Regions from separate parts of the Homo sapiens genome. Here region 1 is linked to region 2. Evidence: fine-mapped expression QTL. A gene starts in region 2. The other region holds a variant in brackets. All regions are shown on one strand. Distances are from middle to middle.

Region 1 (5,375 bases), 32 kb before region 2:
CCCAGCACCACACCCTGGGCCTGGTAAAGATAGACCCCTGACCTAATCGGTTATTTGCATAAAAAAGCACTGTGAAGATCCCTGTCCTGTTCTGTTCCGTTCTAATTAACAGTGTATGCGTCCCCTAGTCACGTACCCCCTGCTTGCTCAATCAGTCAGGACCCTCTCATGCAGACCCCCTTAGAGTTGTGAGCCCTTAACAGGACAGGAACTGCTCACTCAGGTAGCTCAGCTCTTGAGACAGGAGTCTTGCCGATGCTCCCAGCCGAATAAACCCCTTCCTTCTTTAACTCGGTGTCTGAGGAGTTTTGTCTGTGGCTCTTCCTGCTACATAGTCACTATTTTTTTATTTTAGCCACTCAGATAGGCAAATATATCCATCCAAATAACTCTCTCCCAGGGCTAATTCCTAGAGAAAGTAAACAACTGGCCTGCAAGTCTGCCTTTGATATGCAAACCAAACCATTCCCTATTCCATGCCCCCACCTGCTTCCTTTCAGCAGGCTCCTGCAGTCTGGGATATTTTCTTTCCCCTGCCCTAAATCACCCCAGGGCCAGGTACCAGACAACTAGAGACCACTCTTGTATCCTAGCCCATCAGAATAATTCAAACTACACACTCCGAAGCCTGCTGTTTGCTTACCTTACCTTGCCTATCACTTCCTCTGAAAACCATGATAAAGGCTCCCACATACATTTCCTCTCTCTCTCTCTCTGCCCCTTCACCCGCCCTCGTGCTTCCCCGTGTGGCCCTACATGGCACACTGCACCTCCTGCTTCTAGGGGTCTTTGAGTAGAAACTTATTTCTTTATGACAGTCATTTCCGTATCTGCATGCCTTACCATATCTGGTTAAAACAAATCCTGGTACATTTTTTTGTTTTGTTTTGAGACAGGGTCTCACTGTGTCACCCAGGCCACAGTGTAGTGGTATGATCATAGCTCACTGCAGCCTCCATCTCCCAGGCTCAAGCATTCCTCCTGCCTCAGCCTTCTGAGAAGCTGGGACTACAGGTGCGTGCCACCATGCCTGGCTAAATTTTTTTTTTAAGTAGGCATGAAGTCTTGCTATGTTGCCCAGGCTGAGTTCAAGCAATCATCCCGTCTCAGCCTCCCAAAGTGTTGGCATTAGAGATGGGAGCCACCATGCCCAGCCTCAGGTACATTTTTAAACATGTCCTCAATACATTAACCTGGTCCCTGAAAAACTCAGAGGGGTCCCATCATATAACAGTAAACCAACTTAAACTGAACCAGTTGATGGCCCAATCACAGTTTTGTTTTGTTTTTGTTTGTTTGTAGGGAGTTCCCTACAATCTACTGTCAGGAAAGGAAAAAAATCCAATATGGTTTATGAGCAGAAGAACTTGCAACAGTATGATTTCCTCTGTGCAGGATTCAAAAACAACCATGTCCTTGCTCAGCACACTAAAGCAAGGGAGTGATTACTCCAAGAAATATTCAGATAGTATTTAACCCTGACAGTAGGGGAAAGACAGTTATGAGGTCAGGGAGAGGCATATGGGGGGCTTCAAACATCTTAATAATGATTGATTTCCTAGGCTGAATGGTGGGTACACATGTTTATTTTTAGTCCTTGAACTGTATAGATACCTCATATACATACTCTTGTGTATGGGATGTATTTTATTTATTTATTTGTTTATCTGAGACAGGGTCTCCCTCTGTCACCCAGGCTGGAGTGCAGTGGCACAATCTCGACTCAATGCAACCTCCACCTCCGGGGCTCAAGCGATCCTCCTGTCTCAGCTTCCCAAGTAGCTGGGATCACAGGCATACACCACCACACCCTGCTAATTTTTGTATTTTTTTGTAGAGATGAGGTCTGACCATGCTGCCCAGGCTGCTCTCAAACTCCTGGACTCAAGTGATCCACCTGCCTTGGCCTCCCAAAGTGCTGGGATTGCAGGTGTAAGCCACCGCACCCGGCCTACATTTTTTTTTAACTTTTAAAAAGTATCCGGTGATAAGATGGAAAGAAATATGAGGGTCAGGGTCAGAAGTCCTTTTTGCAGTCAGAGGGGCTGTGTCTCTGGACAGGGTTCCAATGGGCATGGGGTGTTGCAAGTTCTCCTGTTCATGACTCTGTCCAAGGAGTCCTCCAAGGCCTGTTCACCCAGAGGATAGCACCGAGTATGCTCAGGAGCAGAGGCACCTTCAGGAGTGGGAGAAGCAGGAAGCAGGTGCTGCTGGGCAGGGACCTGTGAGACGGAGAGAGTGACTAGTAGTAAGCTGCCTTCTCCGGGGAGTCCCAGGCTCTGCCTCTCCCCCGCCTTCCCTCGAGGTCTCGTCCTGTGCCCTCAAACCCAATGTCAGCATCAAGCCTGGTGGGTACCAGGGTCAGGCAGCCCCATGCTGAGGGTCACAGGCTCCTGACCTTCATTCAGCTCAGAATTAACCTTGAGTGTCAAGACCCAACAGATGCCGGAGGTGAGGGATAGAGAAGAAGAGAGATATGTTAACCCAGGCAGGAACTGGCTCCCAGAAACAACTTCCTGAACAGATCCCTCAGCCACTGATGCCCGCAGGAACTCAGCTCTTGCTGGGAACAACCTCAAGGATGAAATACTCCTTTACAACCATCTTCACTCAAATTAAATATGATCACAAGAACAGCTCTTTTGCTTAAACGGCTTAACAATCTCAACCCCAAGGAGTGAACTCTCCAAGCTCAGCCCATGGCCAGTCGTCTCGCTCCGTGGGTCCCACTACACTGCTCCCATTCCAACTCCTCAGATGCTGCATTCTCTCCCCAAAATGGGCCGCTGTGCCATCTCTCCACCTTCCCAGCCCTCTACCTGCAGGGCTTGTCTGATGCCCTCCCTGATCCTCTCTAAGACGAGTCCCTGTAACAAACCCTGTTGGCGCCCTGCCCCATATCACCTTTGCCCACTTGAGCTCCTGGCAGCTGCAGGCAGTCTTGGCCCCACCAAGGATTTCCCAGCTCAAGCTCCCCATCTCTGCCTGAGGTTATCTACAAGAGTGCACACATTTTCCTGTGCAGAGCAGGCCAGATGGGCCACAGAATTCATGCCCCCAGGAGTGCCTGCTGCCTGGAAGACTCTGTCTCCAGTTCTGAGGAACGTTCTAC[A/G]CAGTCTCTCATAGGGTGCCCAGAGGGGTTAATCTCCAGTGACTCCAGTTACTACGGGGATAACCCCTTCATTACAGCACATTTCACCGCCCTTCCCCTTTCCTGGTCTCACTTTCTGCTCTCTCAATGTACTTCTTGAGATTACCTCTCAATAAACAAATTGCTCCTAAGTCCTTGTCTCAGGACCTGATTTGGGGGAAACCCAAACTAAGACAGTCCCTTTGTTCTTTGTTTCTGTGGAACATCTTGTATTTCCTTGATAGCCCAAATCATGCCCCACCAGCTTCCCACACACTCTGGCACCCTATCTCTTTACACCTGCTTTATTTTCCTCCACAGTAATTATCATTCGTTGACATATTTCCTTGATCTATCGTCTCTCTGTCTCTATTACATATCTCTCTCTGCCAGCTATCATCTCCATCTGTCTTTCCAGTCAGCCAGCCAGCCATCTCTATCATCTTTCATATCATATCTATCATCTGTCTGTTTATCTATCTATCCACCTATCTATCTATCTATCTATCTATCTATCTATCCATCTATCTGTCTGTCCACCTGTCTGTCTGTCTATCTATCTATCCATCTGGCCATTGCCTGAATCTACCTATTTGCAACTTCCTCAAGAGCACAATCTTGCCCCTTTGTTCACTGTTGCATCTCTAGAATCTCCATCAGTTTCTGGCGCATAACAAATAAACACCTGTTGGCCGAGCACGGTGGCTCACACCTGTAATCCCAGCACTTTGGGAGGCCGAGGCGGGCAGATCACGAGGTCAGGAGATCGAGACCATCCTGGCTAACATGGTGAAACCCCCGTCTCTACTAAAAATACAAAAAAAAAAATTAGCCGGGCCTAGTGGCGGGCGCCTGTAGTCCCAGCTACTCAGGAGGCTGAGGCAGGAGAATGGCGTGAACCCGGGAGGCGGAGTTTGCAGTGAGCCGAGATCGTGCCACTGCAGTCCAGCCTCGGCGATAGAGCTAGACTCTGTCTCAAAAAATAAATAAATAAATAAATGTTGAGTGGGTGAATAATCAAGGAAACCTGTGTCTAGGAAGCCCCACCCTAGGAAAGAAGCTGCACACATGGCAAAAGACACTGGGACACGTGCATTTTACCCTTGGCATTGGCTGGGCCTGGTGGGAGATGCAGGTGTCTTCACAGAGTTCTCAGTACTGGAGGCTGAGGATAAAGAACAGAGGTTCAGTGCCCTACGCCTGACTCTTCCCAGCTGAGTACCTGGTACCTGCATGGTTCTGACTTCATAAAGCAGAGGACGCTCAAGGAGGCAGCTGGACAGATGTTCTAGGACCATCGTCTTCCAATAGGCAGACCAAAGCCTGACTGGAGTAACAGAGCATCCCCCCAACCCCATCCCAATGGATGCCCTGCTCTGGGGCCGGGTGGGCATTTTATAAACCCAGACCAGAGGATGACCACCTTCTCCCATGTTGGTGTCCCCCATCTCGCTGAAAATCAACATGCCGAAGGTTAGGCTTAGGTTCCAAAACCCCCATCCTTGCCAGTGTATCCACACACCACCACTACCCTCCAGCACACACTCTCTGTCTCACACACACTCTCACACCTGCACACACACTCTCACATGTGCACTCACGCAACTTCACAAATACACTCACACGCCCACTCACTCACACACGCCTGCTCTCACACACACTCTCACATGCACACTCACACACCTGCTCTCACACACACACCTGCTCTCACACACACTCACACACACCTGCTCTCACACACACCCACACACCAGCTCTTGCACACACTCACACACTTGCTCTCACACACACTCACACACTCACACACCTGCTCTCACACACACTCCCACACTCACTCACACCTGCTCTCACACACTCACACTCACACACACTTGCTCCCTCACACACTCACACACACTCACACACACCTGCTCTCTCACACATTCACACACACCTGCTTTCACACACACCTTCACACCTGCACTCACTCTCACATGTTTGCACACAACTCACAGTCACACACTGAAACACACTTACACTGTCCCACTCATTCAAACACACATGTATTTCCCACACACATTCACACAACATACTCTGTCCTGAGTCTCTGATGCACCACACTAGGCCCAGTTCTTCTCTCCTGGGCCAAAATTTCTGTGGCTGCTCTGCAGAGATGGCCTCAGATGCCTGAGAAAAGAGGCTCTTACCCGATGAGACCAGCACTTGAACCTGGAAGAAGGGATCGGGCAGGAAACCAGACAGGCCA
Region 2 (5,375 bases):
TGATGGTTTTATAATGGGAAACCTCTTTCACTTGGCTCTCATTCTCTCTCTTGCCTGCTGCCATATAATACATGCCTTTCACCTTCCACCATGATTGTGAGGCCTCCCCAGTCATGTGGAACTGTGAGTCCATTAAACCTCTTTTTCTGTGTAATTTACTCAGTCTCGGGTATGTCCTTATCAGCAGCGTGAAAATGGACTAATACACTGTGACTTCGTTTTCTATAAGTGGGAATAGTAATGGCATCTACCTCTATGTTACTATATTATGTTTGTTATTATTATTATTATTATTATTACCCCTGGATGAATGAAAACTTTAGACTTCATTGGAATGTCTTGAAAAACCAGGGTCACCATGGTGGGAGCGGAAGACAATTTCACCATAAACAGGCAGAGCTCCACAACCCAAGGAATTCCTGGAACAGAAATTGGACTCCATGCCCAAATCTGCTTTCTATGGCATCTGAAGGGAACTAAGAAACTACACACGACCTCCTGGGGAAAGATGGGTATAGGGGCTTCATTTGTTCACTCTGAAAAAAGTTCTACATCAGAATGGAAAGACAACAATTAAGGTAAATATTTAAAGAAAAACTACATCTGGAAGTTATTTATAAGAAATAAGAGCTGGGTGTGGTAGCTCACACTTGTAATATAACAACTTTGGGAGGCTGAGGCAGGAGAATCGCGTGAGCCCTGGAGCTTGAGAGCAGCCCTGGCAACATAGCGAGACTAAATAAATAAATAAATATTAGCTGGGTGTCGCACCACATGCCTGTAGTCCCAGCTACTCACTCAGGAGGCTGAGGTGGGAGGATGGCTTGAGCCTGGGAGGTCAAGGCTGCAGTGAACCCTGATCCCAGCACTGTACTCCAGATTGGGTGACAGAGCACACCCTGTCTCAGAAGGAAGGAAAGGAAGGAGAATATATCTGAAAATTGTTTACAGAATATAAATTTGAAGCCAGGCATGGTGGCTCACACCTATAATCCCAGCACTTTGGGAGGCCAAAGTGGGAGGATCACTTGAGCCCAGGAGTTTGAGACCAGCCTGGGCATGAAAGTGAGTCCTCATCTCTACAAAAAAAAAAAAAATAAAAATAATAATAATAATAATAATAATCTATTTTAAAAGAAAATAAATTTGAGATTGGAAGGAAAAATTTTCTTACAAAGCTTGATCTGAGTATAGATAATATGAGAAGCACATAGATTTGTTACATTTTAACAGAAATGAAAACACTACGTATCAAAATTTGTTGACATGACAGCCAAAGCTGTACTCAAATATAAATCCTTGGGAAAAAGGTTTGATGCTTCCTCAAAAAGTTAAACATAGAATTAACATAGGATTCAGCCATTTTACCCCTAGATATATACCCAAGAGAACTGAAAACATATCTCCATACAAAACTGTGCTATGAAAGTTCATAACATTATTACTAACAATTTTTAAAAGGTAGAAACAACCCTAAGGTTCATTGACAAATGACTGGAGAAACCAAATGTGGTATATCCACTGTGAAATACTATGCAGCCATGAAAAAGAATGAAGCTTTGATTTGTGCTACAACACAAAGTAACCTTGAAACATCATGCTAAGTGAAAGAAGCACTCCAGCCTGGGTGACAGAGCGAGACACCAGCTCAAAAAAAAAAAAAAAAAAAAGTTCTTCAAGAATGGACTCACTCATTAGTTCCTTCCTTCATTGATATCTGTTCATTCATCTGTTTATATGGAACAGTCAGGGTTGAGAACCACTGTTCCAACAAGAAGCTATACTTGTTTTGTTTTGTGTGTGTTTGTTTCTGCAGCATCTAACACAGAACCTGTCAGATAACAAAAACTTGATTGCTATTTAATGAATATGGGCATGGATGGATGAATTGGCGCTGTCATTTTCCCTGACATGTCTCCTTCCTGAGAACAGAGCGTCTCTGTCTCCAAGCCAGCCGCTGTCATTCCAGTGCCTTAAAGCTCCAGCCACACTCACCTGGGAGGATGAGAAGCAGCAGAGATGGGGACAGCCACATGGTCCTGTCTCCTCTCCTCTCCTTGGTGATCACAGGTGTCTGGTGCCCTTCAGGGACTTGAATCCAAGCTCGGAAGTCAACACCGCAAACCTACTCGAATCTCCTTCAAGTCTCTTGCTCACTTCCTGTTACATCTGTAGCTACTTCTCTTTTTACATATTAGGAGAAAAGAGGTGTCATTCTTTGAAAAGACTAAGGTACAGTGTATGTTGCAAGGTGTGCCCAAACTTTTGTGCATGTGGAAAAGAAAATGTGTCCGGGACTGGTCAGGTTTGCACGGGAGTGCACGTAGGAGCCAAGGAGCAGGAGGAGCCAGGAGGAACCCAAGCATTGAGGAGCTGCGGGATCTACTGCCTGGAGGAGAGGACGGACAAGGCCAGCCATGAGGAGTGCAGGGAGAGGAGCACTTTGGGAAGACCACAGTGCACAGGACTCACACCCAGCCTTGCTGGAGAAAGCCCATGCCCCAGGCTTCTTCCAGGCAGCCCCACTGTAAGACATCTCATTGCCTCTTCCTGCCCTGGGCTGTCTGACCCACTGCCCCTTCCCCCAGGAACACTTCCACTGGGATCATGAGTCACTCTGAAGCCACTCTGAAATCACTCTGAAGCCAAAGCTGGGCTCAGTGGGGAAGGTCAGGAATGGAGAAATTGCCTTTTCTCGTTAGCCTCCTCTTGCCCTGATTTCATCCTCCCTATCCCTGCACACTTTCCCCTGGCTGCTGTTGTAATCTACTTGTTCTGCTGACGCCCGAACTGACTTCTTTCCCGGTCTCTCCCCACTTTCTTTAGATGGTCCCTTCCCTCTTTCTCTCCCTTTCCCTCCTGAATCGATTCATTTTTTCTCTCCTGTTTTATATTTTCCATATCTGTGGGCTTTGTTCTACATTTGGGGAGCTTTTTATATTGTTTATTTCATGCTTGTACTTTCCCTTCCAATCCTTGGATCAAATATTGATTTTAGAGACTGTATTTTTATTTCGAAAAGTTTTTTTGGTTCTTTGATTACTGATGTTTTCAAACTCTCTTCTGTTCCTTGAACTATATCCCTCCACTCAGTGGTCACATCTTTGTTTTGTTGTCTGCTTCTTCTATATTATGAGCCTTCCTCAAGTGTCTGCTGATTCTTGGTTATCCAATCATAGTTGAGAACAAGATAAAGTGTAGCTAACTGAGACCTCAGAGTATGTAGGAGTAAATAGTATATAAAATAGCTCTGGTGGCTCATGCCTGTAATCCAGCACTTTGGGAGGCCAAGGCGGACAGACCACCTGAGGTCAGGAGTTCGAAACCAGCCTGGCCAACATGGAGAAACCCCATCTCTACTAAAAATACAAAAATTAGCCAGGTGGTGGCACACGCCTGTAATCCCAGCTACTCAGGAGGCTGAGGCAGGAGAATCGCCTGAACCTGGGAGGTGGAGATTGCAGTGAGCCCAGATTGCACCACTGCTCTCTAGCCTGGGCAAAAAAACTAGTTCCAAAAAAGACACTTGTACACGCATGTTTATAGCAGCACAATTTGCGATTGAAAACATAGGGAACCAGCCTAAATGCCCATCAAGCAATGAGTGGATAAAGACAATGCGGTGTACATATACACCATGGAATACTATTCAGCCACAAAAAGGAACAAAATAATGGCATTCACAGCAACCTGGATGGAGTTGGAGATCATTATTCTAAGTGAAATAACTCAGGAATGGAGAACCAAATATTGTACATCCTCACTTATAAGTGGGAGCTGCGCTATGAAGATACAAAGGCACAAGAATGATACAATGGATTTTGGGGACTTAGGGGAAAGGATGCAGGGGATGAGGGATAAAAAACCATACATTGGGTACAGTGTACACTGCTCCAGTGAAGGGTGCACCAAAATCTCAGAAGTCACTGCTAAAGACCTTATCCTTGTAACCAAAAGCCATCTGCTCCCCAAAAACTATTGAAATAAAATAAAATATAAAAAGAAAGAGAAAGAAAAGAAAATAGTTCCAATTTATCATGCCAAATTGTTTGAACCCTTGATTCTTTCTTGACTTACAAGCTACACTTTAAGGGGCGTGGGCAGAGAGCGGTCTTCTAAACTCTAGACTGAAGAGGATTGAAGTTGAGCTCCAGCATTCTCACTGCCATGGCTTCCCAGATATTACATTAAAATAAAGAATTCCTGCTCTTTTGCCTGGGGGTCAGTGCCTGCCTCCAGGCATTTGGGGTATATGTAAAGATGTACATGTTTGGCCGGGCACAGTGGCTCACATCTATAATCCCAGCACTTTGGGGGGTCGAGGCGCGTGGATCACCTGAGGTCAGGAGTTCAAGACCAGCCTGGCCAACATAGTGAAACCCCGTCTCTACCAAAAAATACAAAAATTAGCCCAGCATGGCAGCGCACGCCTGTAATTCCAGCTACTTGGGAGGCTGAGGCAGGAGAATCACTTGAACCTGGGAGGCGGATGTTGCAGTGAGCCGAGATCACACCATTGCACTTCAGCCGGGGTGACAGAGTGAGACTCCATCTCAAAAACAAAACAAAACAAAACAAAAACATGTTTGTGGAACTGCTCCATGAACAAAGCTCCAATTGGGTCCCCAGTCTCCATTCCCACTTCTGACCCACACTCTTCATCACACCTGCTGGCTCTGAGTTCAAAGCCTCCCCTGAGTTTTATCAGGTGGGTCAATTAGAAGTAGGAGTTGCAAAATGCAATTTATTTTATCTGCCCTTTACTCTGAGGGTACACCCAATATGCCCCAGACCACCATACCCCTAATCTTTTGACACGGCAGGCCCCTAAACCAGTGTAGGGTTTATCTCCCAGCCTCTGGAGCACATCCAGTTGCTAGCCTCTTCTTGTTATCAGGTGCAATTAGCATGATGTCATAAACACAGGGGACTACCTTTATGTTCTGGGCAATGGCTGGACGATTCAGGTTTCTTAGAACAATACTACAAGGAGAAGAAAATTAACACAGTCCTGGAACAAGACTGTGAAAGTATACTGTTGTCCATGCCAAGCGAATGCGCCTGCCTCTGTTCCTCCTTCCTGATGGTGGCGGAAAGGATGCTTTTGCCAGATCAACAGTCACACACAACACACCAGGTTATGCTCATCTATTCTAGTAAACCTGTCACTGTTGGCACAGAAGCTGGAAATTTGGCTATTCCTTTAATATGGTGGTGGGTTTGTTGTTGTTTTGTTTTGTTTTGTTTTGTTTTGTTTTGTTTTGTTTTGTTTTGTTTTGGAGACAGGGTCTCACTCTGTTGCCCAAGCTGGAGTGCAGTGGCACAATCATAGCTAGCTCACTGCAGCCTCCAACTCCTGAGCTTCAGTGATCCTC

Alleles and levels. Positions count from the first base shown, and alleles are read on the strand shown. Sizes are in standard deviations (SD) of each study's normalised expression.
For the expression in whole blood of the gene that starts at base 2,116 in region 2, allele A in region 1 goes with a lower level than allele G (large effect, 1.6 SD a copy in TwinsUK).

Evidence for each region. PIP is the estimated chance that this variant, and not a neighbour inherited with it, causes the effect.
Region 1: its variant is the best candidate, but not a certain one, in a credible set for the expression of CD300LD in whole blood (TwinsUK, PIP 0.89).

Annotation. Positions count from the first base shown.
Region 1 is chr17:74,558,603-74,563,977 of GRCh38, forward strand. It overlaps CD300H (CD300H molecule (gene/pseudogene)), which reads right to left. Exons shown (of 4, transcript NM_001405511.1): 2 at 5,317-5,375; 3 at 4,232-4,295; 4 at 1,569-2,222. The coding sequence ends at 2,099. Among named protein-coding and RNA genes, the nearest start is that of CD300H, 6.2 kb to the right of the region's middle. The variant A/G (reference allele first, on the strand shown) is at 3,113.
Region 2 is chr17:74,590,168-74,595,542 of GRCh38, forward strand. It overlaps CD300LD (CD300 molecule like family member d), which reads right to left and starts at 2,116. Exons shown (of 4, transcript NM_001115152.2): 1 at 1,996-2,116. The coding sequence starts at 2,035. It overlaps CD300LD-AS1 (CD300LD antisense RNA 1), which reads left to right. Exons shown (of 3, transcript NR_171003.1): 2 at 352-578; 3 at 1,817-4,042. RefSeq lists an enhancer at 2,020-2,149.